Homo sapiens: one gene and its partners. The protein of the gene in region 4 purifies or fractionates together with the protein of the main gene of each other region. This does not show direct contact. Each region holds a gene or a part of one and is shown on either strand. Other genes may lie near its edges. The genes, in order: DDHD2, CCDC88A, PPFIBP1 and RAPGEF5.

Region 1 (7,032 bases), on a different chromosome or scaffold from region 4:
GTTTTTAAAATAAGGGAAAGAATATATTCACATACATATATTTATTATGGAGGCATAAAATAGATGGCTGGAAGACATTTTACATTAGTTGTATATGGGGAAGAAACTGATTGCAAGAAACAAAATAAAAAAGAGGCTTTTCATTATTTTTCTTTCTTTGAATTTCAAACCATATGAATGTACTGCCCACACAGAAATATTAAAAGAACTCTGCTTTCTTTTCTATCAAGCCAGATCACCAGAGATCATTCTTAGCATTATTTTAGCCCCTTACAAGATTGCTTTTGGCCTCTACTGTATATATTATATACAAACGATAGTGATTGCATCAGATGATAATTCCTCATCAGAATTCAAGGGAAAAATTATTCTTAGGACCTTTGAGCTTGCTTTTTTTTTTTTTTTTTTTGAGATGGAGTCTCGCTCTGTCACCCAGGCTGGACTGCGGTGGCCGTGATCTCGCTCACTGCAACCTCTGCCTCCCAGGTTCAGGCAATTCTCCTGTCTCAGCCTCCCTAGTAGCTGGGACTACAGGCATGCACCACCACACCTGGCTAATTGTATTTTTGGTAGAGACAGGATTTCGCCATGTTGGCCATGCTGGTCTGAGCTTTCATTTTTAAAACACTTATCTCTGACCCATCTTATTTCCCTTACTTTATTTTTATGTCAACTTCTTCAGGGATTAATTAGTATTATTTTATACTATTTTTTTTCAGACATGGTCTCGCTCTGTCACTCAGGCTAGGGTGCGGTGGCACCATCATGGCTCACTGCAGCCTTCAACTCCTGGCCTCAAGCAATCCTCCTTCCTCGGCCTCCCAAAGTGCTGGGATTATAAGCATGAGCCACCATACCCGGCCTGAATTTCAATAAGCATCATTAATCCATTCTACAATCCATCAGGTAACCAATTATATTTAATAATAATTCTGCCCAGGCGTGGTGGCTCATGCCTGTAATTCCAGCACTTTGGGAGGCAGAGGTGGAGGCGGATTGATTGCTTGAAGTTTAGACCAGCCTGGGCAACATGGCGAAACCCTGTCTGTACAAAAATTAGCTGGGCATGGTGGTGCACAACGGTCATCCTACTTATTAGGGAGACTGAGGGGGGAGGATCACTTGAGTCCAGGAGGTCAAGGCTGCAGTGAACCATGAGCATGCCACTGCACTCCAGCCTGGGTGACACAGCAAGACCCTGTCTCAAATAATGATAAAATAATAATAATTAATTCTGTCACAGCTACCATAAATGCTTTCAAATGGGTTTGCTATAAGACTTCCAGCAACAGTAATATTTGTTCCAGTTCATTCATGTGCACCTAAATGGCCAAAAGACACATTTTTAACACCAAGATAATTGAACTTATGGTTGTTGGCATCATTAGCCTCAACCATGTTCTACCCAGCTGCAAAATAAAACAACAGTGTGTTTAAACCAGATTCTTGAAATGACATGATTGTGCTTGTGCTGTCTAAATGAGAAGTCATTTTAATTCCAAAGGTACACAGGTCTTTTTTTTTTTTTGAGACAGGGTCTTGCTCTGTCACCCAGGCTAGAGTGCAGTGGTGTGATCATGGCTCACTGTGGTCTCAAACTCCTGGGCTCAAGTGACTCTCCTGCCTCAGCCTCCCAAGTAGCTGGGACTATAAGCGCATACCACCACGCCCAGCTAATTTAGTTTTTGTAGAGATGAGGTCTTGCTATGTTTCCCAGGCCGGTCTCAAACTCCTGAACTCAAGCAATCCTCCCACCTTGGCCTCCCAAAGTGCTGAGATTATAAGCCTGAGCCAATGCACCTGGCCTATCCTCCTTTTTCTACATCTATCAAATATCTATGAAACAGGTAAACAAACAAAACAGACAAAAATAAACAACATTTACCAGTAGCATAGATGGCTTTGTAAAGCAAATAAATACTCATTAAAACTTTCAATAGGCTTCTCCTGTAGCACATAGTCAATGCGTTGGCCTCCATTCAGCATCCCCACATTGATAGGCAGGACTTCTTCTTTAACTGCCACAGAGGTCTCTTCTGTGTTAACATCTGGATATGGAAGAACCATAATAAGAATCTAAAACCTTTTGGCCTTCAGGGTTATCCTGTTAACTTCTCCTCACACTCCAAGTTTACCAGAGAATGAGCTACTCTCTGTTCAGAGAGCTCTCTCCCATCTTCCTCCTCTCAATCTCCTTCAAGCTCCTTCTCAGGTCACAGTAATTTTGTCCAATCCCCTTTTTTGCTTTTGCGCAACACATCTCATTACCTATACCATTGATAGCTAGGTCATTTGCCTTGGGTTTATACTAAATGCAAGCAGGAATAGAGCTCTTTAGAAGTTGAAAACTAAAGCAAAAGAATGCAATATTAACTATGAAATTAAATGTGAAATTAAATTAAATTAACTATGAAAAACGCCACACCATGGCATCCCTCTTATCTGGCAGCTGGTCAATGTGTACAGTGTCACTGACCACTAGGCTTCTCTGAAGTTGATTCAGGTTCTGCTTCAGTTTCTTCTGGTGTTTCTGAAGCTTGTAAGGCAGGGTATGGAGCTCTGGTAAAAGACTTCCAGGCCATCCGCAGCGAACCTAGCAAGTTGTTCTTAAGGTCCATACTCATCCTGGTCAAGCCCTCTCTCAGTTCTGAAACATATAAATAAAGAACATTAAATGATTTACAAAGAGCTTAGGGTCCAACATAGCTGAACAGAGTGAATGATGCCCTTTGCACTGGCCAAAAGGTCTAGAATTATCAAGTTCTATGCTCGGACTTACCTAAGTGCATCCGCTTCCTGCCTTTATGATGTGGGATCAGCATTGGCTCAAATTCCACTCCTGGGACCACCATTGGTTCAATCCTATAGGCCACAGGATCAAACTACATAGGAAAAACAAGAGCTACATTTACCTCTGCTAAGCACAGTCTGGAAACTATATAACTTTTTTTTTTTTTTTTTTGAGATGAGGTCTCGCTCTGTCACCCAGGCTGGAGTGCAGTGGTGCAATCATGGCTCACTGTAGCCTTCAACTCCTAGGCTCAAGCAATCCTCCTGCCTTGACCTCCCAAAGTGCTGGGATGACAGGCATTAGTCACCATGTACAACCAGAACTATGTATCTTAAACAATAATCATAAGTTCATTTAAAAAAATGTACAGTTCTGCTCCATCACTTCCAAATCAATACTATTATAAGTTGTCTCATTGCTAGACAATGGAATAGGAAAAAAAAATCAACACAACAGAAAATCCTATGTTCTTTAACAATAAGCCCTGATATTTAGGTAAAACCACAATAGCTGTACAATGCTTACAGGGTGATAAATATTGAAGAAACCTTTGCACGTTGGAAATCTGTAGTTGGGATCAATTCTTTTTAGTCCTCGGACAGTAAGGAACATTCCAATGGGAGATCCAAAGGCAAAGAATATCTCTGGTTTATAGATGAGCCGGGGGTATTTCACAGACACCTCAAAGGAGGAAAATAAAAGCATCTCTCATTAATAACAAAAGTTACATCTGTTTCTACCATACAAATAGCAGGCTGTAAAATGATCAAAGAGAATTAGTTACCTGCCCAATGCCAACATCCAGATAGTCACCATTTCTAGTATTACTGCTACTGCAGAACTCAGATTCTTTGGGGATGTTTGCCCCTGAAGCAGGCTGCGGGGCTGGTCTCTTAATACCCTAAAGAATAAAAAATAGTTATGTGGAGAAGCTGGGCATGACGGCATGCACCTGTAGTCCCAGCTACTCAGGACCCTGAGGTAGGTAGGTAGGTAGGATTGTTTAAGCCCAAGAGTTCAAGTCCAACGTGGGCAACATAGTCTCTATTTAAAAAAAAAGTATGGGGAGCTACTATATAGTAAAAGTATAGCCAAAGGATTATATAGTTTTCTACTGGTTTGAAAGGACCCTTGGGAAAGTTCTGAAATGGCAGCCAAAAATTCTAGGAAGATTTCCTCAGAAAACAAGATTAAATTATTGCCTTAAATTGTTAATTGACATTCTTAGATGCTCTAAAATGATGAAAGTTGTACATAGCCATTTCAGTAGCGTTGAAACTTTAGGCAACAATCATAAGAGAAAACAATAGCAGGGCACTGTGGGAAGATAATGCTGAGGATTGCTAGAGTTCTATGAAGTGCTGTGCCTCTGTAATCAAGGGAAGTAGGATGTCGATGGGCTGGGCCAAGAACTGAGTCTTTAAAAAGAAATGAGCCACCTGCTAAAAAGTTGGAAAAGAACTAACTACTGGCCAGGCATGGTGGCTCACGCCTGTAATCCCAGCACTTTGGGAGGCTGAGGTGGGCGGATCACTTGAGGTCAGGAGCTCAAGACCAGCCTGGCCAACATGGTGAAACCCCATACTAAAAATACAAAAATTAGCTGGGTGTGGTGTCGCGTGTCTGTAATCCCAGCTACTCAGGAAGCTGAAGCAGGAGAATCACTTGAATCCAGGAGGCGGAGGTTGCAATTGAGCCAAGATCGTGCAACTGCACTCCATCCTGGGCGACAGAGCAACACTCCGACTCAAAAAGAAAAAAACTAACTAATAAGATATGGAGTTAGAAATTCAGTGACCAGAAAAACTGAATGTGGAAGTACTGTTAACACAGGTAAACCTTCAGAATATTATGCTAAGTGAAAGAAGTCAGACACATGGCTCAAAAGGACATTCCATTTATATGGAATGTCCAAAATAAGCAAATCTGTAGAAACAGAAAGTAGATTAGTGGTTGACAGAGGCTGGGGGCAGGGAGCAATGGGGAGTGACAGCAAATGGGTATGGGGTTTCCCTAAGGGACAATGGAAATGTGCTGAAATTGGATAGTGGTAATGGTTACATAACTCTATGAATATACTAAAAACCATTAAATTGTAAACTTTAAAAGGGTGAATTTTATGGTATGTGATGTGAAGTAGATATTGGTAAAACTCTCATGAAAAGAAAAAAGCAAAAAATAAATAAATAAATAAATGGTAGGAGAATTCCAGAGGAGAGAAGACTTCTGAAGCTAATAATACTTTTAAGGATGTAAAAAAAGAAGGGCCAGGAGCGGTGCAGCACTTTGGGAGGCTGAGGCACATGGGTCATCTGAGGTCAGGAGTTCAAGACCAGCCTGGCCAACATAGTGAAACCCCGTCTCTACTAAAAATACAAAAAGTTAGCTGGGCATGGTGGTGCACACCTGGAATCCCAGCTACTCAAGAGGATGAAGCAGGAGAATTGCTTGAACCTGGAAGGTGGAGGTTGCAGTGAGCCGAGACCACCCACTATACTCCACCCCGGGCAACACAGCGAGATTTCATTTCCAGGAAAAGAAAAAAAAAAGAATGTAAAAAAGAAAATGTGTTTAATTTCTAGAAAGAGAGCCAAAGATCGGCCAGGCGGGTGGCTCACACCTGTAATCCCAGCACTTTGGGAGGCCAAGGCGGGCAGATCACAAGGTCAGGAGTTTGAGACCAGCCTGGCCAATATGGTGAAACACCGTCTCTATTAAAAATACAAAAATTAGCCAGGCATGGTGGTGGGCGCCTGTAGTCCCAGCTACTCGAGAGGCTGAGGCAGGAGAATCGCTTGAACCCGGGAGGCAGAGGTTGCAATGAGCTGGGATCACACCACTGCACTCCAGCCTGAGTGACAGAGCGAGACCCTGTCTCAAAAAAAAAGAGCCAAAGATCAATTACCAAAAAACTGCTTGGCTCCCCAGAGTAAACATCCCACAAAGCACAAGGACACACTATGGACATCAAAGAATTGTTTAGTCCAACAAGCTGTATTAGGCACATACCATTGAGTTTTTTCTGGTGCTGAAATAGTTTAATATCTTCTTTCTTGGTCCTAAAGGAATTCCTATTTCCTGAAGATCTCGGTCTGTACATAAAGCCTAGGCATAGAAAATCAAGTCTTTCTTATTTCTAGACAAAATAAAATCAATCCTGTCCCCTAAGAGGAACAAGGCCTAGGCACTCTGTTGCTGCCTGTCTCTCTAGTAGTAAAACATCATAGAATAACTTCCAGAAAAAAGGACCTGTTTTATTCATGAAACAGCCTAAAAAAGAATAGAAAATATCAATACTTATAATATCAATGTTACAATAATATAGACATTGTTATTGTTAAAAAAAAAAAAAAAAAACAGAGAAGTTGGGTATCTAAGGACTTCAGGACATAAAAATCTTCCTTGATTTCTGGCCAGGCGCGGTGGCTCACGCCTGTAATCCCAGCACTTTGGGAGGCCGAGGCGGGTGGATCATGAGGTCAGGAGATGGAGACCATGGTGAAACCCCGTCTCTACTAAAAATACAAAAAAAATTAGCCAGGCGCAGTGGCAGTCACCTGTATTCCCAGCTACACAGGAGGCTGAGGCAGGAGAATGGCGTGAACCCGGAAGGCAGAGCTTGCAGTGAGCCGAGATCGCGCCACTGCACTCCAGCCTGGGCAACAGAGCAAGACTCCGTCTCAAAAAAACAAAACAAAACAAAAAAACTTCCTTGATTTCTATACTGACTTAGATGTCACATGCCTGAGAAGGATTATACTCCTGCTGATGAACGCAAGCACTGAGAACATACAGCAAACACACAAGTATGGAACAGACTAACAATCAAGATCTCAAGTGTCACTCATCGTTTTTTTTTTTTTTTTTTGAGATGGAGTCTTGCTCTGTCGCCCAGGCTGGAGTGCAGTGGTGTGATCTCAGCTCACTGCAACCTCCACCTCCTGGGTTCAAGCGATTCTCCTGCCTCAGCCTCCCAAGTAGCTGGGACTACATGTGTGTGCCACCACACCCAGCTAATTTTTGTATTTTTAGTACAGACAGGGTTTCACCATGTTGACTAGATTGGTCTCGAACTCCTGACCTCGTGATCTGCCCACCTCGGCCTCCCAAAGTGCTGGGATTACAGGCATGAGCCACCACACCCAGCCAGCTATCACTCATTTGATTAGGGAAGCCTTCCTGCACCTTATGAGACCAGGTTAATTCTTACAACACGGTGTACTTTTCCTACTTACTTATTG
Region 2 (7,032 bases), on a different chromosome or scaffold from region 4:
ACTCCAGCCTGGGTGACAGAGAGAGACCCCGTCTCTTTAAAAAAAAGAAAAAAAGAAAAGGAAAAAAAAGATTTACTTCTTTTATCTTGTTTATCTTATATAACCTCATTGAATTTTTAATAAAGTTAAGGATCAGATGATGCAATGCATATACACTCAACTTTTTAAATAGTAAAGAGTAAACATAGTAAAAACAGTAAAGAGTAAATACAATGGTGTATTTTTCAATATTATAGCACCCCAGAAATCCCTGGGCCATGAGGTGAATGAGTTGACATCAAGTAGATTATTGAAGCTAGAGATGGAAAATCAAAGTTTGACAAAAACCGTAGAAGAGCTTCGGACTACTGTGGATTCTGTAGAAGGCAATGCTTCCAAAATCCTGAAAATGGAAAAAGAAAATCAAAGGCTCAGTAAAAAGGTAAATTAAAATGTAGTGTTTATTTTAATGTTAAAAAAACTTGTAAAAGTGTAAATAAATAGCCCATTTATTTTCCACTTTTTAAATGCACGCTCAATGTTATTTTAACTTGTTATGAAAATTTTCAAATATACACAAATATGGTGTGAATGAACCCTATACTCATTATTCAGCTTCAGCAATTAAGAACTTACTAGCTGATCTTGGCCAGGTGCGGGGGCTCACGCCTGTAATCCCAGCACTTTGGGAGGCCAAGGCAGATGGATAACCTGAGGTCGGGAGTTTGTGACCAGCCTAGCCAACATGGTGAAACCCTGTCTCCACTAAAAGTACAAAAATTAGCCGGGTGTGGTTGTGGGCGCCGGTGATCCCAGCTACTCGGGAGGATGAGGCAGGAGAATCTCTCTCGAACCCGGGAGGTGGAGGTTGAAGTGAGCTGAGATCACGCCACTGCACTCCAGTCTGGGCCATAGAGCAAGACTCAAAATCTCAAAAAAAAAAAAAAAGAATAAGCAGGGCTAGAGGAGTTACATTTACCAGTTTCCAAATAATGAATTGGTTCTCTCATATCTTCTTGAGAGAACTAGTGAGTGAGTTTCTTTAGTGTCATTATGAACCCATGAATTTAAAAATATTTGTATTGTTTCAATCCACTGCATTTGTTTTTCTTACTGTCTCAACTCGGGCTAGTGGAAGCCTCTTTAAAAGCTGCTTTGGTCCTGAATCCTTATGACATGGCCTTAGCACTCCTTAAGAGCTTTCTTGCTTTCTGCCATGACAAAATATTCTAGGCTCATCTTGAACATTTTCTGTCCCAGACCTGGAGACAGCCATTTCTCTGAAATTAGCCCTTATTCCTTTTAGTGGGAAATGATATTTAGAGACCACAATTTAGGCATTATGAAACCTGAATCTTAATCAGACTCTGGTTGAACAGAAATATTCAGTTGTGCAAGAACAAGTGTTTTATTTTTGCATATCTTTCTGCACACATAATTCTACATAAATAGAATCCCATCATAAAAACATGCATGATTAAGAATTGTTTCTAAGAAGTTCCTAAGTGATGCTCATCCTGCTGTCCTGGAATCATGCTTTGAGAACCACTGCTTTAGATTATTCAGAGGCTCCTTAGTATTCTTGTAAGATTTTTACTGTTTAAAAATGTTTTTACATTGTCTTCAGTCCATTAACTAAATAATCTTAATAAGCGTTTGACAATATAGTGTTAAAGTAGGATGACCATTTAGAATTTAGAACAGTTTTATTTTGGTTGTCATTAAAATTGGGCCTGTAGAGTACAGTTTCTTTTTGAAATTAGCTTTGAAGTTTAATATGTAAATTCTTAGTGATTCAAGCAATTTTTGATTAATTGTAAAAATGATTTTTTTATAAACTGAATGTTTCACTTTAATCCCATTGATACAAAACAACAAATGAGTTTCAATAATTGTTATTCTTATATTTCCATCTATGTAATGTGAGAACCTGATTAATTATTCACAGCTGAAAGCTTCCTGAACTGTAAATTAATGTTGAATTGAGTTATTGGATAAGTTTTTTGACCTGATGCTTTTCATATTATTATTATTATTATCATCATTATTATTGGTAGTAGTATTTCGAGCTAGGGTCTCACTATATCACCCAGGCTGGAGTGCAGTGGTGCGATCTCAGCTCACTGCAACCTCTGCTTCTCAGGCTTAAGCAGTCCTCCCACCTCAGCCTCTCAAGTAGCTAGGACTACAGGCACAGGCCACCATGCCTGGCTAAGTTTTTTTGTTTTTTGTTTTGTTTTTGGTAGAGACATCGTTTCACTGTGTTGCCCAGGCTGGAAATATTATTGGAAGATTGTTTCTGTGTGTAGTTATTTCCATTAATGTTAAAATAGAAAAATTAAAATTGCTTTAGAGTGCTTCATTATTGACATAAGAATTTAACATTTAACTTGCAGTAGAATGTTTTATAAAGTCTTCTTGATTTTTTAAATTGCCTGGTTTGAATATGTTATATGATAATGGGAAAATCAATAGTCTTAGCATATTTTTAACTTTAATTTGCTATTTTGTACATATTAACTACCAGTATTTTTCATCTCTAAAATGCGTAATTGAAAAGAAATTTGAACCTAAAATATAAATATTAGCCCTTTTTTATGGTAGTATTTTTCTCCTTTTTTATCTTAAAGGAAGTCCTTTCTTTTTTCATTAAGCTTATACTGTACTGTTTATCATCTTTTCCTTCATGCTTTTTATATCTTCTCCTGCCTTCTTGCTCACTGAAATTCTCTGAGTATAAGTAAAATTTTACTTTACAAATCCACTCAAGCCAAGTGAATCTTTAAATAAAGTTTGTATAGTTCTCATATAGCATATTATCATTTATTGAGCTGGATTTGTCTTTGTGTTTAGAAAGTGAAATTTACCCCAAAAGATGCACAAGGATAAGAAATCATGTCTGCATATTTTATACAGCTACAGAAATTAGCATGGAATGCTACTTGAATTTCTATACTAATTTCTTAAATTTTAGCATTTGGATATTAACACTATTTTATCCTTTATTCAGCGATTATGTTTTGTTTTGACATGTTTTCACTGTTACAGAATATTTAACGTATTGTTTTGTGATTTAATTTTCTCTAGGTTGAGATTCTTGAAAATGAGATTGTTCAAGAAAAGCAAAGTCTTCAGAATTGTCAGAATTTAAGCAAGGATCTAATGAAGGAGAAAGCTCAGCTTGAAAAAACAATAGAAACACTGAGAGAAAATTCAGAGAGACAGGTTCATACATTTTTTACTAAGTAAACAATGTATTTTAAAATTTATTAGCAAAAGTTATTTAAAATATATGCAAACAAAATGTTCATATAAACATTAAAGGGAAATATTTTAGAATTTTTTTATTTTAAAGTAATTATAATTTTACCTCATTTTCTAACCTATGTGTCTTAGGAAAGTTGAAGAGAAAGCTTAGAGTTTTTTAAACTACCATTGTGCTTAATAATCATCTAGTATAAGCATTTGCAGTACTTGTGCTTTCAAGTGTCTGTGGAATAGGGCTGCCGATTCTAGAGTCCCTGAGTGGAGTTGGCCAGGAAATGGAGCTGTCCTCTGACCTACCAAAGAGGGAGAAATGTGGTGGCAACCACACTGTCTTGGATATTACCAAATTTGTTTTCAGCTCTTTAATGTTCATTCTCATTTTATGTTTGAGGAAACTGAGAACTGCATAGATTAATTGACTTATTTTTGAAATATTTATTTATTTGAGACAGGGTCCAGCTCTGTCACTCATGCTGGAGTGCAGTGGCACAATCATAGCTTACTGCAACCTCGAACACCTAGGCTCAAGCAATCCTTTCACCTTAGCTGGGACTACAGGCATGCACCACCATGCCCAGATAATTTTTTAATTTTTTTTTTTATTTTTTGGTAGAGACAAAGTATCACTATGCTCCCCAGGCTGGTCTCAAACCCCTGAGCTGAAGTGATATTCCTGCCTCAGCCTCCCGAAGTGCTAGGATTATAGGTGCCAGCCACCATGCTTGAGCATTAATTTTTTTAGAAGTTAAATTATTTGTTTATATCATCCAGGTACAGTCCTCAGACCAGCCATAAAAATGAAGGTTTCTTTAGAGATACAGAACCAAAATTCTAGACTAAGCTTCAATCTTCATTTTTCCAAGCTTGTTGAGATTATTTAACACACTAAATTTTGAGAATCATTGTATTAGATCACGCTATAAATTGGATGAATTAGTTCCCAAATGTACCCAGTGATTTTTGTGATTTTGATGCTTCCTACTTAGAATTCTTTTTGGGAATGAATACACACACATACAAACCCATATATACACATGTAATACAGCACATATTTACTGAGGACCCACTGTAGGCATTGCAAAGGTTACTTAGTAAAAGTAGAACCTTATGTTCTCAAGGAGGTATGTGTGTGTGTTACCTGTATTCCTATTTGAATTTGAAGCATGTAACTGTAAATAATCTGAAGACCATTATGATTAATAGAAAATACATTTCTCAACCGTTCCTTTAAACTGTGAACTTCCTAAAAACATGAACTTTAATGACCTCACAGTAAGTGTACACAGTGGTCTTCAGTAAATGACCTCACAGTAAGTGTACACAGTGGTCTTCAGTAAATACTTGTCAGAATTAAAAGTAAGACATGTTCTAGCACCCTTTTTTTGTTCCCCTTTTCTTGGTAGTTTTTGGAAGAGATAAACCATAGTTAGTTTTTCCTCAATTACAGCTTTTAATTATTTTCTTTTCAAATTAGATTAAGATACTGGAACAGGAAAATGAACATCTGAATCAAACAGTGTCTTCCTTAAGGCAGCGGTCCCAGATAAGTGCAGAAGCAAGAGTGAAAGACATTGAAAAAGAAAACAAAATTCTTCATGAATCTATCAAAGAAACAAGTAGCAAGCTAAGCAAGATTGAATTTGAAAAAAGACAAATTAAAAAAGAATTGGAACATTATAAAGAAAAAGGAGAACGAGCTGAAGAACTTGAAAATGAATTGCATCATCTTGAAAAAGAAAATGAATTATTACAGAAAAAAATAACTAATTTAAAAATTACTTGTGAAAAAATTGAGGCCTTAGAACAAGAAAATTCAGAGCTAGAAAGAGAAAATAGAAAATTAAAAAAAACATTGGATAGCTTTAAAAATCTGACCTTTCAGTTAGAATCCCTAGAAAAAGAGAATTCCCAACTTGATGAGGAAAACTTAGAACTGCGAAGGAATGTAGAATCTTTGAAGTGTGCAAGCATGAAAATGGCTCAGCTACAGCTAGAAAACAAAGAACTGGAAAGTGAAAAAGAGCAACTTAAGAAGGGTTTGGAGCTCCTGAAAGCATCTTTCAAGAAAACAGAACGCTTAGAAGTTAGCTACCAGGGTTTAGATATAGAAAATCAAAGACTGCAAAAAACTTTAGAGAACAGCAATAAAAAAATCCAGCAATTAGAGAGTGAACTACAAGACTTAGAGATGGAAAATCAAACATTGCAGAAAAACCTAGAAGAACTAAAAATATCTAGCAAAAGACTAGAACAGCTGGAAAAAGAAAATAAATCATTAGAGCAAGAGACTTCTCAACTGGAAAAGGATAAGAAACAATTGGAGAAGGAAAATAAGAGACTCCGACAACAAGCAGAAATTAAAGATACCACATTAGAAGAAAATAATGTGAAGATTGGAAATTTGGAAAAAGAAAACAAAACCCTATCCAAAGAAATTGGTATATATAAAGAATCTTGTGTCCGTCTGAAAGAACTAGAAAAAGAAAATAAGGAGCTTGTGAAAAGAGCAACTATTGATATAAAAACGTTGGTTACACTACGTGAGGTAAATATGTTTACCTAAATTAAGGCAAATTTTTTTTTATATTTTTAACTCAAGGTTTCTTTAAGTTTTATTGGAATCTATCAGTAATTTGCATCATTTATTTTATGGTTCAGTAGAATTTTGGAATTAGAACTAGAAATAGCTTCCAAGTTTCCTACTTTGTTAAACTAAGAAATACCTATAAATTGTATTTTTAAAAGAATTTGTAGTAATAAAGTTTCCTAGTGGTATCTGACTTATTACATTATAATTTTAAACCTTTATTTCAATATAATAATGTTTGATCAAGACACTAAATTCTAAGTATAATAAAGAAGCATGATAGCTACTATTTATTGAGTGCTGTGTGCCAAGTACTGGGCTAAAAACTTCATATAAGTTGTATATACATAAATAATATATACACACACACCCAAATATATATACACACATATATACATGCACATAATCTTTACAACTAATCCTTTATAAGTATTATATCCATTTTTTAGATGAGAAAACTGAGGTTCAGAAACATTAAATAAATTAGGATCACACAGCTAATAAATAGCAGAGTTGGATTACTGGATTCAAATCCAGATTTTTCAGACTCCAAAGCCCCATGAATTTTGACCTCAAAGCCAGAGAATGCAAATCAGGTTCAACCATTCAACACTGAGCAACTAGTATTTGCTTGAATCTATGTATCAAGAAGAATTCTGAAACTTACAGGAGTAAATTGGCAGTATGTCCTGTGAAACATGGTTGATGCAAGTCAGAAGGTATATGTTTGGCTCTTTTTTTCCCATCTCTAAGCATTATAATATGTGATAACCCTTTAAGTTCAATTTAAAAGTATATTAGCATTCTGGCAGAAGGTCACATTGGGCAGTCTGCATTTCTGCTAAAGAAGCATTGAGAGGGACCTTTTATTTTTTTCTTCTGTAGACTTATAAACATGAACAACAAGTTCCTTGTGCCTAAACTTCTAAGAACATCCTCTAGTTCTTCAGATCAGTATCATAGGGCCTCTTTCACTGGGAGAAGGGATCTTGTGGGAGAGAAGTATTATAGTCAACATATATTTATAAGAAGAAATGTGCACTAAAGTTCAGGCTCATTATTAAAAAGTAAATGGATATGATTTTCCCCAGTTTTCAAACCTAAATGTGTATTCACAAGTAAAGAGTTACTACTCCCTTTTAAGGTTTTGTTTAAAGTATTAGCAAAAAAAAGGAAAAAAGTTATTTCAACTAGGTTAT
Region 3 (7,032 bases), on a different chromosome or scaffold from region 4:
GGAAAAGGAAACTATTCAGAAGACTTCAGAGGTAACTTTTTGTCCAAATTACAATGCAAAAATATTTCTACTTCCATTACATGTAAATTGCTTAAATGTCTCCAGTAGATAAAAACTTTCAGAACCTCTAGAACATTATGCTAAATGAAGCCAGACACAAAGTTCACATATTATATGATTCCGTTTATGTGAAACATCCAGAACAGATAAATCTATAGAAATAGAATGCAGATCGGTGGTTACCAGTGGTAAGAGGTGGGAAAAATGGGGAGAAGCTGTTTAAGGGTAAGGGGTTTTGCTTTCGAATGATGGAAATGTTTTGGAAGCAGGTAGAGGTGGTGGTTGCACAACATCGTAACATACTAAATGCCACTGAATTGTGCACTTTAAAATTGTTAATTTTGTTATGAATTTCACTTCAGTAAGTTATTAAAAAACAAAACCATAGTCTCTCAGTCATGCTACTTAATGTTCCTAATGACCATAACTGAGCTTCCTTAGACCTCCCCAAAAGCCCTTCTTAGATTACCATTAGATTATACACCCGGTGCCCATCTAAAGCAAACATTTTGGTATGTTTAAAGATGTCGTCAACATGTGCTCAATTCTTCTTTCCCCTGATTTTTTTTTTTTTTTTTTTTTGAAATGGTATCACTTTGTCGTCCAGGCTGGAGTGCAGTGGTGCAATTATAACTCACTGTAGCCTCGATTTCCTGGGCTCAGGTGATTTTCCCACTTCAGCCTTTCAAGTAGCTGGGATTACAGGCGTGCACCACCATACTCGGCTGTTTTTTTTTTTCGTTTGTTTTTTTTTTTATTTTTTATTTTTTAAGTACAGATGAGATCTTGTCATGTTGCCTAGGCTGATCTTGAACTCCTGAGCTCAAGTAATCCTCCCACCTCTGCCTTTCAAAGTACTGGGATTACAGGCATGAGCCACTGTGCCTGTTCTGTCCTCTGATTTTCTGTCATTAACCTTGTGAAGATTACAGCCTGATAGGCTACCTCCAGATCCAGTCTCTTGACTGTTGGCTCTTAGTGCCTGAGTCATATGTGGATAGAATTGACAAAGCAGCCAGTGGTGACAGCTATAATTAAAATCCTTGTTGTCTTTTCAGTTCAATAAATGGTTAAATGATTTTGACGTCATTGTTGAGCCATGGATGATAATATCACTAAATTGTGCCATCTGTAAACTTTTGGTTTCTATGAGCTGTAGATATATAGAGTAAAATAACCACCTAAAATACCTATATCCCCTCACCCTTTTCTCTGCTTCTGTAAAAAAAGAAGCAGAGGGCAAGAATTATTTCTACTTCTGCAAAAAAAAGAAGCAGAGGGAAAGAATAGAGAAATGAAAACAAGAAGACAAAAGTATCTTTGTATAAAGGACACCCACTTCAATAAATGGTGCTGGGAAAATTAGATATCCATATGTAGAAGAATGAAATTGGACTTCACCTGTCACCAAATCAACAAAAATCAACTCAAGATGGATTAAGAACTTACATATAAGACCAGAAACTATAAAACTGCTAGATGAAAACATAGGGGAAACACTTCATGACATTGATCTAGGCAAAGCATCTTTGTATAAATACTAAAATAATATACTGTGTTACAGCTGGCTCTAATTGCCCATTCAAAGAACCAAAAAGCTCAAAATAAAGTTGCTCACTGTGCCTTCATTTTCTTATTCTTTGAGGAGAATATTTAAAATAACTGGAATAGAATCTCCTTATACTGCTGGTATAGAAGTTTGAACTAATGCCTGCTTTGTAGAATAATTAATATTATATTAGGCTTCTATTGACAAAGTTATAATATAAGAATATGAACTGTATTATAGCTAAATCCGTGACATAATTGTTAGAAAAGTCAGAAATCTGCTGCTATTATTCTGGTTATGTAATGTCTCCATGTCTTTTGAGGAATGAGGCAAACAAAATTTAAGAATTTTTGTATCCTAAATATTTAAAGCCCTAGACATATCGATTCTAGATTAGTGATGAACATGTTTTCCTTGTTGCTTTTGTTGTTGTTTCTTAAGTAGCTTTCAGAATTGATTTTTTTTCAACTTCTGATAAGGCATTTGACATTGGTGATCAATGTATTAGTTCAGTTATTCTTTTGAATAAACTCATGGATGTGGCGTGAGTGAGTATTTGCTGTTAGCCTGGCATGTGCTGAGGATGCTGCACCTGAGAGCTGTTTCACTATTCTTATTTGCCTCTCAGGACAGAGCTCCGGCAGAAAGCAGGCCATTTGGGACCCTTCCTCCCAGGCCCCCAGGGCAGGACACCTCCATGGATGACAACCCCTTCGGCACTCGAAAAGTCAGATCTTCCTTTGGCCGGGGCTTTTTTAAAATCAAAAGTAACAAGAGAACAGCAAGTGCACCAAACTTAGGTACGTATGACCAAAATGCCTTTGCCCTAATTCTTCCACAAGGAGGAAAAGAGCAGTGTCTTCCCTTCCCTTACTCTTTCATTCATTGATTCATTTCTCTTTCTCAGAAACGAAGGTGAATGACTTAGGGGAATTTAGCAAAAAATGCCTCCGTGGATTTAATTTAGTGTTGTGAAGATATATAGACTCTCACCCTGCTCTCTCCTGTGGTATAAACTTAGCGGAAAGACCTAAAATCATGATTCCCTTTGACTTCATCATGGAGTTTCCCATCTGTTGTGATAGTGGATAAATTAACATTGACGTTGAGCCTGTGTGTAACATCAGAAGCACTGTGTGCCGCATGCCTCTCCTCCACGGTGTGTATTTGGCGAGGAGGAGTCTGATCTGCATTTCATTTTGTCATCTCTGTGTTCTCTCCATTGGGCTGCGTGTGATTGTGTGCGTTGTTGGGATATCTGAAGATCGTAAACGAAGTGCCAGTGCACCCACCCTAGGTATTGTACCCCTGCATGCCAGCCTTCACCAGCACTGTGCTCCAAACCAATCTAATCCCTGCTCTTGGCATCTGTGATCTCTAGAAAGCGATCTGACAGCAATCAGAAAATGTAGTTCTCTATTCCGGAGTGTTCTTTCCACCTTCTGCTAAAAAGGACTCTGTAGAGGCTTTGCTTCCAAGCCTAAATGCTGTTTTAACCAATACTAGTAACACTCACTGTGTGAATAGCTTTGAGAGGACCTAGACGTGTGCAGCATCCCTCAGAGTGCAGGGCAGGAATGTCCTGGCATTGTACATTGCAGCTCTTTCAGCCTTGAAGTGCATATTACCACACACTAACTCCCAGGTCCTTGCAGTCCGTTCTCCATGCTTACATTTCCCCCAGCCTCCAAAAAGAAATTTTTTTGGCCATATAGGGAGGTTTATAGAAGACATTGAATATTATAGTTTTAGGCTTACTTCTCTTAGGGGAACATTCTTCTGACGTTTTATTACTTTGAAGATGGAGATAATATTTAGTGATGACAGAAGCAACTTTACTTGATATCTGAGGCGTTACCCCCCAAAGTGATTTTAGAAGAGGGGCAGCTCAGTTTTCCTCTTTGTAAGGCAGGGGACAAATGGGGAAAAAAGTTCTCAAAATAAAAAAGAGAAATATGGTAGTTTTAAGATGAGGATAAGCTAGGCAGCATTTTCAGGGGCACCTGTAGCCATCGTGGTTGAAGGATTTGAATTGGGAAAGTTCCTTTGGGTTTTTCCAAAAGGTGCTGTTACCTTGTATAGATATCCACCTATCTATTCACATGGACCAGCAAACGGGACTTCTCTCTCTATCGATATAAATGTCTAGAATGAACACTGGATGCATAAAATAAACTGATCTGTTCAGACAACTATTTTCAAATAGTTTTTTTTTGCATCTTTCTTAGAAGAACTGTTTTGTTAATGCTAAGAGGTAAATGCTGCTTATTATAACCTATAATCACAGCTCTGCTTTGTAGAAAAATCAACTTTCTGCAACTCATAGATCTTGCTGAAACACTGTTCTTGTGATTTTAGTACAACTTTTACTTTCTTTTATAAAGTATAAAATCTCACACTGAAGACAACAGTAGCCCTTGTGTTTGCTAGTATGGGATTGTCCACTAAGGGACAGCTAAAAGAACTGAAATAGTTAATGCTTGGAGATCTGAGAGTGGCAACTGTGGATGTGATTCTTTTAAGGTAAAATCAACAGGCACTTACTTTATGTCAAAAGAAAAATTAGGCATATCCAGTTCATTCTTCTCTCAGTGCCTAGGATTTAATAGATTGGAATACATTTCAAAAATAAAGAATTGCTTGAACTGGGTAACTGATTTGATGTAAATGCCAAAGGAGAAGGAGTAAAAGGAAAATGACATAGAGTCTGAGCTAGAGTAACAGGGACAGTATTAATTAATATTAACCAAATATCAAATAAGAACATTTAAGAGACGAGGCCAGGCGTGGTGGCTCACGCCTGTAATCTCAGCACTTTGGGAGGCCGAGGTGGGTGGATCACGAGGTCAGGAGTTCAAGACCAGCCTGGCCAAGATGGTGAAACCCTGTCTCTACTAAAAATACAAAAATTAGCCAGGTGTGGTGGCGGGTGCCTGTAATCCCAGCTACCTGGGACACTGAGGCAGAGAATTGCTTGAACCCAGTAGGCGGAGGTTGCAGTAAGCCGAGATCATGTCACTGCACTCCAGCCTGGGAAACAGAGTGAGACTCTGTCTCAAAAAAAAAAAAAAAAAAAAAAAAACATTTAAGAGAGAAAAAGACTCTCGGGGAAATTGGATGAGTTTGTGAAGTCCCAGATGTCCCGACACACTGAATTGGGAATATCACAGGCATTTAGATACAGAGCCTAGAGAGAGAGATTAGGCCCAGAGATTCTGATCCTCTAGAGGGCATTTAGAATATAATCTTAAAGTGGCATGGGGGAAGAAAAAAAAGCAGGGGTGCTACAGCAAAGACACTATCAGATGACAGATGTAGGAGAGTGGTCATGTCAAGAAGCAAAAGGAGATGATTTTGAAGGATGTAGCAGGTAATCAACAGTACCACGTGCTATGGAAAGATTGGGAATAATTCCATTATGAATTGAAATCACTCAAGGAAAGAATGTGGCAATCCTATCACATTCTTTTAATCTCCAAAGGGCTTGTAATTTTATTAAGTTTACACACAGTAAACTATGGAGCAGAACGTATATGTGTGTTCCATTTCTAATATTTACAAGGTGCTCTTTGTAAGTCACTGATTATAGACCAACAGAAGAATTCTTAACAGTTCTAGAACCAAGAAGATTAACATCATGTTTATTCCATATTTTAAAATTCATTGTCTGCATTCTGCTCTTGGAGTAGCTGAAACAGAAAAAGAGACAGCAGAGCACCTAGATCTGGCTGGTGCTTCTTCTCGGCCAAAAGATTCACAGAGGAACAGTCCCTTCCAGATACCGCCTCCATCTCCAGATTCCAAAAAGAAATCCAGAGGTATCATGAAACTCTTTGGAAAGTAAGTAAAGCAGTAAACAAGTGGAATGGGCCCTGTCTTACATGTTGCTTAAAAGTGGCTGGACATGGGTATGGACTTTGTAAGGCCTTTGTATTCCTCTTATGGAAGGAAGTTTGGATTGTGATGTGGGATTTATTAACTCATTGGGTCTTAGTTAAAGTTTAAATTTAAATGTCTATGTTAACAACACAAAGAGGATTAGTTCCAGTAGGTGCACTAGTTAAAAATGTTCTGATTAACAAGTCTAAGGCCTCCTCAGGTCTAATACTGGCCATGTGTGTTGTCTTCTTTAGACTTAGGAGAAGTCAATCAACTACATTCAACCCAGATGACATGTCTGAGCCTGAATTCAAAAGAGGAGGGACAAGGGCAACCGCGGGGCCCCGATTAGGTTGGTCTCGAGACTTGGGACAGTCTAACAGGTAAGAAGAGCCAACTGATAGACTTTTGCATCTCTACCAAGCATCATAGCCTCATGAGTCCTGCAGTATTAGTACTGTCATTGGGTTAAACAAAGTCATTGCTTAATGCTGTGCCTAATGAAAGGGGCCATCATCTTTAGAGCCGTGCAATTTGTCAATGGTTGATGAACAAACAGAAGGTGAGGGCTGTGCGAACTAGGGGAGAGGCCAGAGCTAAAGTGTCAGCAGCATCTGTGTTAGAATGGCTCTCAGACTTAAATTTTACGTAGATGGTAATTACAAGTACTCTAAAGCATAACTTTGGAAAGATGGGATAGCATAGTGGTTAAGAGTATGTTCTAGAATCAGACCACTTGGATTTGCTTTCTGGCCTTACCACTTTCTACCAGCTGGGTGACCTTGAGCAACAGCTTCCACACCCTGTGCCTCAGTCTCCTCATCATCATAATTAGTACCTACCCCAAAAGCTGACCATGAAGGTTAAATAAGTTAATATGTGTTAAATATTTGGCAGATAATAACTACTCAAGAAACATTAGCATGTAACAGAATCTATGAAAGCACTTAAAGACAAAAATGCTATCAGAATCCTTGTATTTATCAGGACTATATAATATTTTATCCATTAAGATTCTAAGAACTGCTCTGACACTCTTAACCAAAGTTTAGGGCTGGCTTAGAACTACTACATTGACTCACTGTGCATAAGAGGGTGGGGTTGGCAAACATAAAGTACAAGACATTGATACCAAATCTTTTAACAGTATAATAGACTGACTAGAAACCCTTTACATATAGCCCCTCCCATACAGGTGGAACACTGGACATAGGTTACATCAAGGAGGAAACTCTCTTTGGCCTTCTTCAAATACCAAACAGTTTCATTTGCCATATGTTGTCTTTGAACACAGTAGAGCTCCTTGTACTATTTAAAAAAAACCATTCATCTTCCCCTCCGCACCCTGCCCCCACCCCGGAACAAGAACACTATTTGTGTATCTAAGTAAAAGAAAACAGGAATTTTGCTTTGATTGTTTCCTACACTCAGTGACAACATATTGCCCTCTTCTCATTGGTTACCATATGGAAAGAAACCATAATTCTGCTAAAGTTAGTTCAAATTAGACTTAAGTTTCTTTCAGTCCAACTGAGTTTCCTGTT
Region 4 (5,451 bases):
GAAGGTGAGGTTTATAATCCCCCTGCAAGGGGGAGATGGACACATGCCAAAGGCCAAACTTGACCTCGATGGGCAAGATGTACAAATTTCCTGTTTACACAGAGAGAAGATGCTGAACACTCAGTCTGCGCTAGTGTATATACCGCCTGGCATCCCACTGCCCCAGAGCATCCTTATTATCCCTGTGCTGCTCCATCCACTCATGGCTCTTCCGCTGTCAGGACCTCTATCCTGGGCCCCGGGCATCACCACTGGGCTGGTAGCTGCACTCAGTATCTGGGCTGGTGAGGGACAGTTCCTGGTCCTGCTCAAGTAGGGTGAGGCAATGACAATGGTTGCCAGATTCCCCAGATTTCAGACTCTGAGAACACTGATGCAATTTCCAAAATAGGGTGTTTAGGTTCTGCAATAACCCAATGGCAGGATAAGTGATTTAGGCTTCTATGGGCTGCCTGAGAACCTCTTCATCTACTTGTAGCTCTTTCAGTGAGCAAATGACTTCTGAGTTCCAACCCCCTGAGCATCATATGCTGCCAGAACAGAGCTATTTAATCCACACACATCACAGAGAAAGCAAGAAACTAAGAGGCATGAATAGTGTCTTTAACATAGTCTCATATTTGGAAAAGCAGTTTTAAAAAAAAATTGAAAATACAAGATAAGGTAAGGGTTACTTATATAAGTTTTAACCTTATATTGCTTGGCCATTTTTACATATAAATTATTGCTTACTAGCTTCGATAAATACACAGCACAGTCATATACATATATATTATATATATACACAGAGGCAGAAAGCATGGAATATGGGAAAGAAAACACTGTTAATGGCAATTCTGGTAACTCAACAAATGTTTCATATTTACCAGTTCTTTAAATGGTGGAAAACTACCAAGTGTAGTCCCTGAGAAGTTAGGTAGACACCCTGATGGCGGGTTCTCTATCTTCTAATTGTTAATGCAAGCTGACAATATCACAGCAGCCCTAATTAATGATACATTAAAAGGCAAGATTTCTTGCTTCAGGTCACTGATTTCATCCCAGTATTTAATAACAGTGTGATACGAATACAATAAATAGACTATGCAAATAAATATTACTCTGCTAAAAAATGTTTAGTATATACAGCTTTGCTTTATACAGTAATACATTTGCATCTAACTTTTTGGCAATTTTTAAAAACTTCCCCCCCGCCCCCCCACCAGTTTTAAGCAAAACTGGCCCACTCGCTAAGAAGCAGGCTGAAATTTTAAGGACATGTTTTTGAAACATTTAAAAGAAATCCTGTGTTGGACCACTGCGGAAGACCCGATCGTCCCCATTTTAATGTTTTTGCCCAGTTTCTGAAAAGCCTGGATTGGCTGCGCCATTTAGGAACATTCAGTTCCGGATCTGCGGTGTCTGTGCTGGCTAGAACAGACTCGCAGGGCTGGGATATGGGTAGCAGTGAAAGCCCAGCTCCAGGGATAAGAAGTCATCACTGGTACTCTCTCTTTCATGCCACGATTTCTCCTCCACTCAGAGGCAAGTATATATTCATGCAGCATCCTCTCCCTGTGGACTAGGCAGTGTGAGCACTGACCTTATCCACATGCTTCTAAATTCGGTGTATGCTCCACACTACCTGTTTGTGGTTCTCGGTCTAGGGAAATGAATTTATTCTAAACATAATTAAGGAAACTAGAAAAAAGTGAATGCAGGTCATGTGTATCACTATAATCATTTGGCAATTATACAGATGACAAAGAGCAAATTCAAAACACCACACTCTAGGGAACACCTGCAAATGTGTATGTAAAACAAAATTTTTTTTAATAGCAAGGTTGTGATTTTGCCTACGGGGTCCTGCATTCTGCTGTCTTGTGCTAACTTCTAAGCAGGGCTAGTTTGCTGGAATGCTGACGAATCCAAAGACCCACAGGACTGTCTGAGAGTTGTGCTGTAACAAAAAGAGCCCACTTAGAAGTGCCCCTGCACCACCTGGTGCCGAAGGTGCCAGATTACGTAAGATTTGCAGAGTGAGCGAAGATTTTATGCAATAATAAAACTCCAAATGAGAGCTGGCAAAGAGCTTAGCCATCTTCTAGACCACGCTTCTAGCCAGAACAAACCCTATTCTGAAGAGGCCTTGGTGAATATCCAGAGAGGGTGCATGGCCCATCCTATTAACAAGGAGCACTCAAGCCCCACCACTGTCCACCAGTGAACAGCTCAGATTCCTTAGAAAGAGCTTTCTGTTGAGTAATATCTGGTTCTCACAATTCGGGCTTGAATTCTTTAATTCCAGATCTAAGATTCTGCAAAGCTTTGGAAACTTCTGAGAGCTGCTGCCTGGCAAACCTCTGGAGACAGTTGTTAAACTTCAGAAAGATGCAGAGATTTTAGACATTCAGAAGACAAGGATGGAAAAGCAAATCTTGACTGCACAAAATCCTCCCTTCCCTCTGCTACCCCTAGGACCACCTAACCACGGCTGGAGGAAGAGGTGAACAAGCATCATTTTCTCCCCAGCCAGTTTACACCCATGTCATGTGAGATACTCTGAAGTCACTGTACAAAATGCATTTAAATACCACATTTGTGTAGCTTCATCTGGCTTGGTGGGCATATCTGACTTGGGGTCTGAGCAGCATGCAATATGCTGAAATAGTTCTCCATGGAAAATTAGTCCCCTAAAGGTAATGTTCTACTAGGAGCAATGTAGTTCTAATGTAAATAAAAATCCAAATTTTGAAACACAGAAACAATGTCAGGATGGCCTTATATGATTACACTGGCCAAACCTTAGTCCAGGGCATAGGAAAAAGGTGAGAACACGTGCTTGTGCTGTAAGCCCATGCTATTGTTAGTAACTGCGTGAGGAGGGCTTTGGAGGGTTTGCTCAGCCCAGCCGTGAGGGAAGTCTGCTCTCCGGTTCTCACGGCTCTGGTGTCCTGTGGGCCACATTCCATGACGGCAGCATGCAGCATTTCTCTGAATGGACCAGCCCTGGAGGATGCCCTTCTATAAAACCCTATAAATGTTCAGGACTGAAGTTTTACATGCTGGGCCAAACTAAGTCTCTCTCAAAGTTCTCCCAAACCTTCTCTCCACATGGTTCCTTCCAGCAGTATCTCAAGCTCAGTGTGGTTCCTGAGCCCAGGAAACAGCACTGCTATAAAGATGTCAAAAAGCATTGGACACGCCTCAGTAATGAGGATGAATGAGGCGTTGATGAGACAAAAAGGAAACAGGTCTGTGTGGGCATGAAAGAGATGAACAGGCAGGAAGAGTGAGAAGTGCACCAAGACTCCTGCATTTGGAAAATGAATGGACCAGGCCCTTGCATTTTAGCAAGGTGACAAGTATCTAGCAGGCAGGGGTGGATTTCATTATTTTGACCCATAGGCTGTTTTGTTCATGTGAAGGTTGAAAGAAATCCTCTAACCAGTCCTTGAAAATATCAAGAGGTCTTATTTGCTACAGGAGCCTCAATTGGTAAAAATGGGAATAATAAGATTTTAGAAGACTCAGATTTTGAAAAAAAAAAAAAAAAAGGCAAATTATAGAAAGGCTCCCTGCTTTGGCTGGTAGTTGGATTATAGGACTTCTAAGTTGCCAACATTAATCAGACATTTGGCTATTTCAGGGCATTTTTCATTTGCCAAAACACTAGTAATTACCACTATCTTATTACCTAGAGAGTGCTAAGTGCTTCACTCATTAAATGTCACTTAACCTCCCTGCACTGGCTGCTGTCATTCCATAGTGTGGGCAAGGAGCCTGTATGAGGTACGCAAAATGCATCATCAGGCACAAGAATGCAGACTTTTGTGACTCTGTCACCTCAGCAAGCAGTTGGTGAGTGTTTGCAATGTGTCAGGCACTGTGCTTTTTCAAAATCATATTATGTCCAATAAAAGATAAGAGCCTGCTTAGAAGTATAAAGAAAATCCCCAGAAATTAAACAATGAGTCAATTTCTTAAAGATTACTATTTTTCCTTACTGGCAAAGCAACTTCATCTACCTTGCCTATAGCTGCAAATCAGTTGTACAGAAACTAATTTCACCTGCAAGCATGTGTCAATAGTTGATTGTGGTGCAAAGTGATGCACACCTTGACATTGTTCATCTGCCCATCAGAGCATGGATGCTAGCTGCAGTCCTCACTAACTCCCTAGACACAAGTGGCTTTTGGTGATGTCACAGGTTGTATCAACAGAAACCTCTCCTCCCTGGAGATCTAGAGATGCTGTCTCTGTCATCAGGTGTTCAAAAGAATGACTTCTTTGACAGCTTATGGACAGTAATCTAAAACTAGGCAAAGTAAAAACTCCTTCCTGTTTCATGCACGCTCTTAATGAAATATTTGGTCATTGCATGTCAAGACGTTGTCTTGTCTTGATGCTGGCACATCTCATATTGAAAACTGGACTGGATCAACAATGTGATCATAAGAAACCAGCCTTCTCCATCTCAAGAATGCTTCTGACTCTCCTTCTGCCTTCTTGTCCCGAGAGTAGCATGGAGAAACCTCTCCCCCTCTCTGGTGGCTGACATCACTTCCTGAACACGCTTTGGCTGGCTTTCCTGTGAATGTCTTGGGTTATACTGATAAAACTCAGCAACTTCTTTTCTCACAGGAAAGCAACGTGCTTGGCATAGACATTCCCGTAGCTCAAAGTGCTGCAGATACAGGGGAGGTGAGGCAGTGGGGCTCACACCCGAGGCTCGATCCTGTGTGAGAGCTCAAACAGAGCCTGCTGGCTGTCAATGACATACAGGTGATTAACATAGGACTTTAACTCTTGATGCTCTTTTGGAGACAGGTCACCTGTTGTTTAGAGGGGGAAAAAAGACAATCTCAGGAGAGCAGTAATGCTGTATCTACATACCAACAAAACCCCACACTAAGGCTGAGTAAATGTACTAGGTGGGTTCTCATTAGTCAGAATCCCATAAGAGGTGTCCTTGTCCTACAGTAGAAATGCTTTTTCAGCTCAGAATGGATTCCTCAGGTCAGGCAATCAGACTGGCAGGATACTTATAGCATTTATTACCTAACATTGTATATTATTTAGAAATTACGTTATTATCTCATTCCACAGATGGGGAAACTGAGCACAGTCACGCAGCAAGTTAACTGTCACAGCCAGGATTCGGACCCAGGACAGATGGTTCCTGAGCCCTTTTAGGTAGCCTTTCACAGCAGTTACCTGTTTAAATGGCCAGCACTGGGTCCTATATCTCAGTCTAGAAGCGTTGAAAATCGCTGATAATGTATTTAGCATATGAATGCAATCACTCTTTTTCTGTTGTTTAGATTTTGTACAATTCTTTGGTATTCTCATTTTTTGGAAAAAAAAATTTAATGGAGCAACTGAATGAACAGATACAACAGAACAGACTCTAAGATGTGGTTAACAGACGAAATAGCTTCAGAAAGTATGTGTATGGACTAAAGTCTACCC

The links.
Region 1: the proteins of RAPGEF5 (region 4) and DDHD2 purify together in Homo sapiens (affinity purification with mass spectrometry; 2 studies listed by BioGRID and IntAct, with this or other methods). This does not show direct contact.
Region 2: the proteins of RAPGEF5 (region 4) and CCDC88A purify together in Homo sapiens (affinity purification with mass spectrometry; 2 studies listed by BioGRID and IntAct, with this or other methods). This does not show direct contact.
Region 3: the proteins of RAPGEF5 (region 4) and PPFIBP1 purify together in Homo sapiens (affinity purification with mass spectrometry; 2 studies listed by BioGRID and IntAct, with this or other methods). This does not show direct contact.

Annotation. Positions count from the first base shown.
Region 1 is NC_000008.11:38,248,572-38,255,603, reverse strand, and holds part of DDHD2 (triacylglycerol hydrolase DDHD2), read right to left. Parts: intron 5,897-7,032; coding exon 5,801-5,896; intron 3,693-5,800; coding exon 3,576-3,692; intron 3,473-3,575; coding exon 3,317-3,472; intron 2,883-3,316; coding exon 2,780-2,882; intron 2,648-2,779; coding exon 2,477-2,647; intron 2,049-2,476; coding exon 1,886-2,048; intron 1-1,885. UniProt on the Homo sapiens protein: Diacylglycerol (DAG) and triacylglycerol (TAG) lipase required for proper lipid homeostasis in the central nervous system. It cooperates with PNPLA2/ATGL in neuronal TAG catabolism and hydrolyzes sn-1,3 DAG downstream of PNPLA2/ATGL.
Region 2 is NC_000002.12:55,332,853-55,339,884, reverse strand, and holds part of CCDC88A (girdin), read left to right. Parts: exon of another isoform or gene 1-236; coding exon 237-421; intron 422-3,066; coding exon 3,067-3,204; intron 3,205-4,720; coding exon 4,721-5,791; intron 5,792-7,032. UniProt on the Homo sapiens protein: Bifunctional modulator of guanine nucleotide-binding proteins (G proteins). Acts as a non-receptor guanine nucleotide exchange factor which binds to and activates guanine nucleotide-binding protein G(i) alpha subunits.
Region 3 is NC_000012.12:27,674,191-27,681,222, forward strand, and holds part of PPFIBP1 (liprin-beta-1), read left to right. Parts: intron 1-1; coding exon 2-31; intron 32-2,237; coding exon 2,238-2,409; intron 2,410-2,516; coding exon of another isoform or gene 2,517-2,584; exon of another isoform or gene 2,585-2,873; coding exon 2,874-2,906; intron 2,907-5,298; coding exon 5,299-5,449; intron 5,450-5,742; coding exon 5,743-5,871; intron 5,872-7,032. UniProt on the Homo sapiens protein: May regulate the disassembly of focal adhesions. Did not bind receptor-like tyrosine phosphatases type 2A.
Region 4 is NC_000007.14:22,117,708-22,123,158, forward strand, and holds the end of RAPGEF5 (rap guanine nucleotide exchange factor 5), read right to left. Parts: intron 4,815-5,451; coding exon 4,699-4,814; 3' UTR 529-4,698; downstream 1-528. UniProt on the Homo sapiens protein: Guanine nucleotide exchange factor (GEF) for RAP1A, RAP2A and MRAS/M-Ras-GTP. Its association with MRAS inhibits Rap1 activation.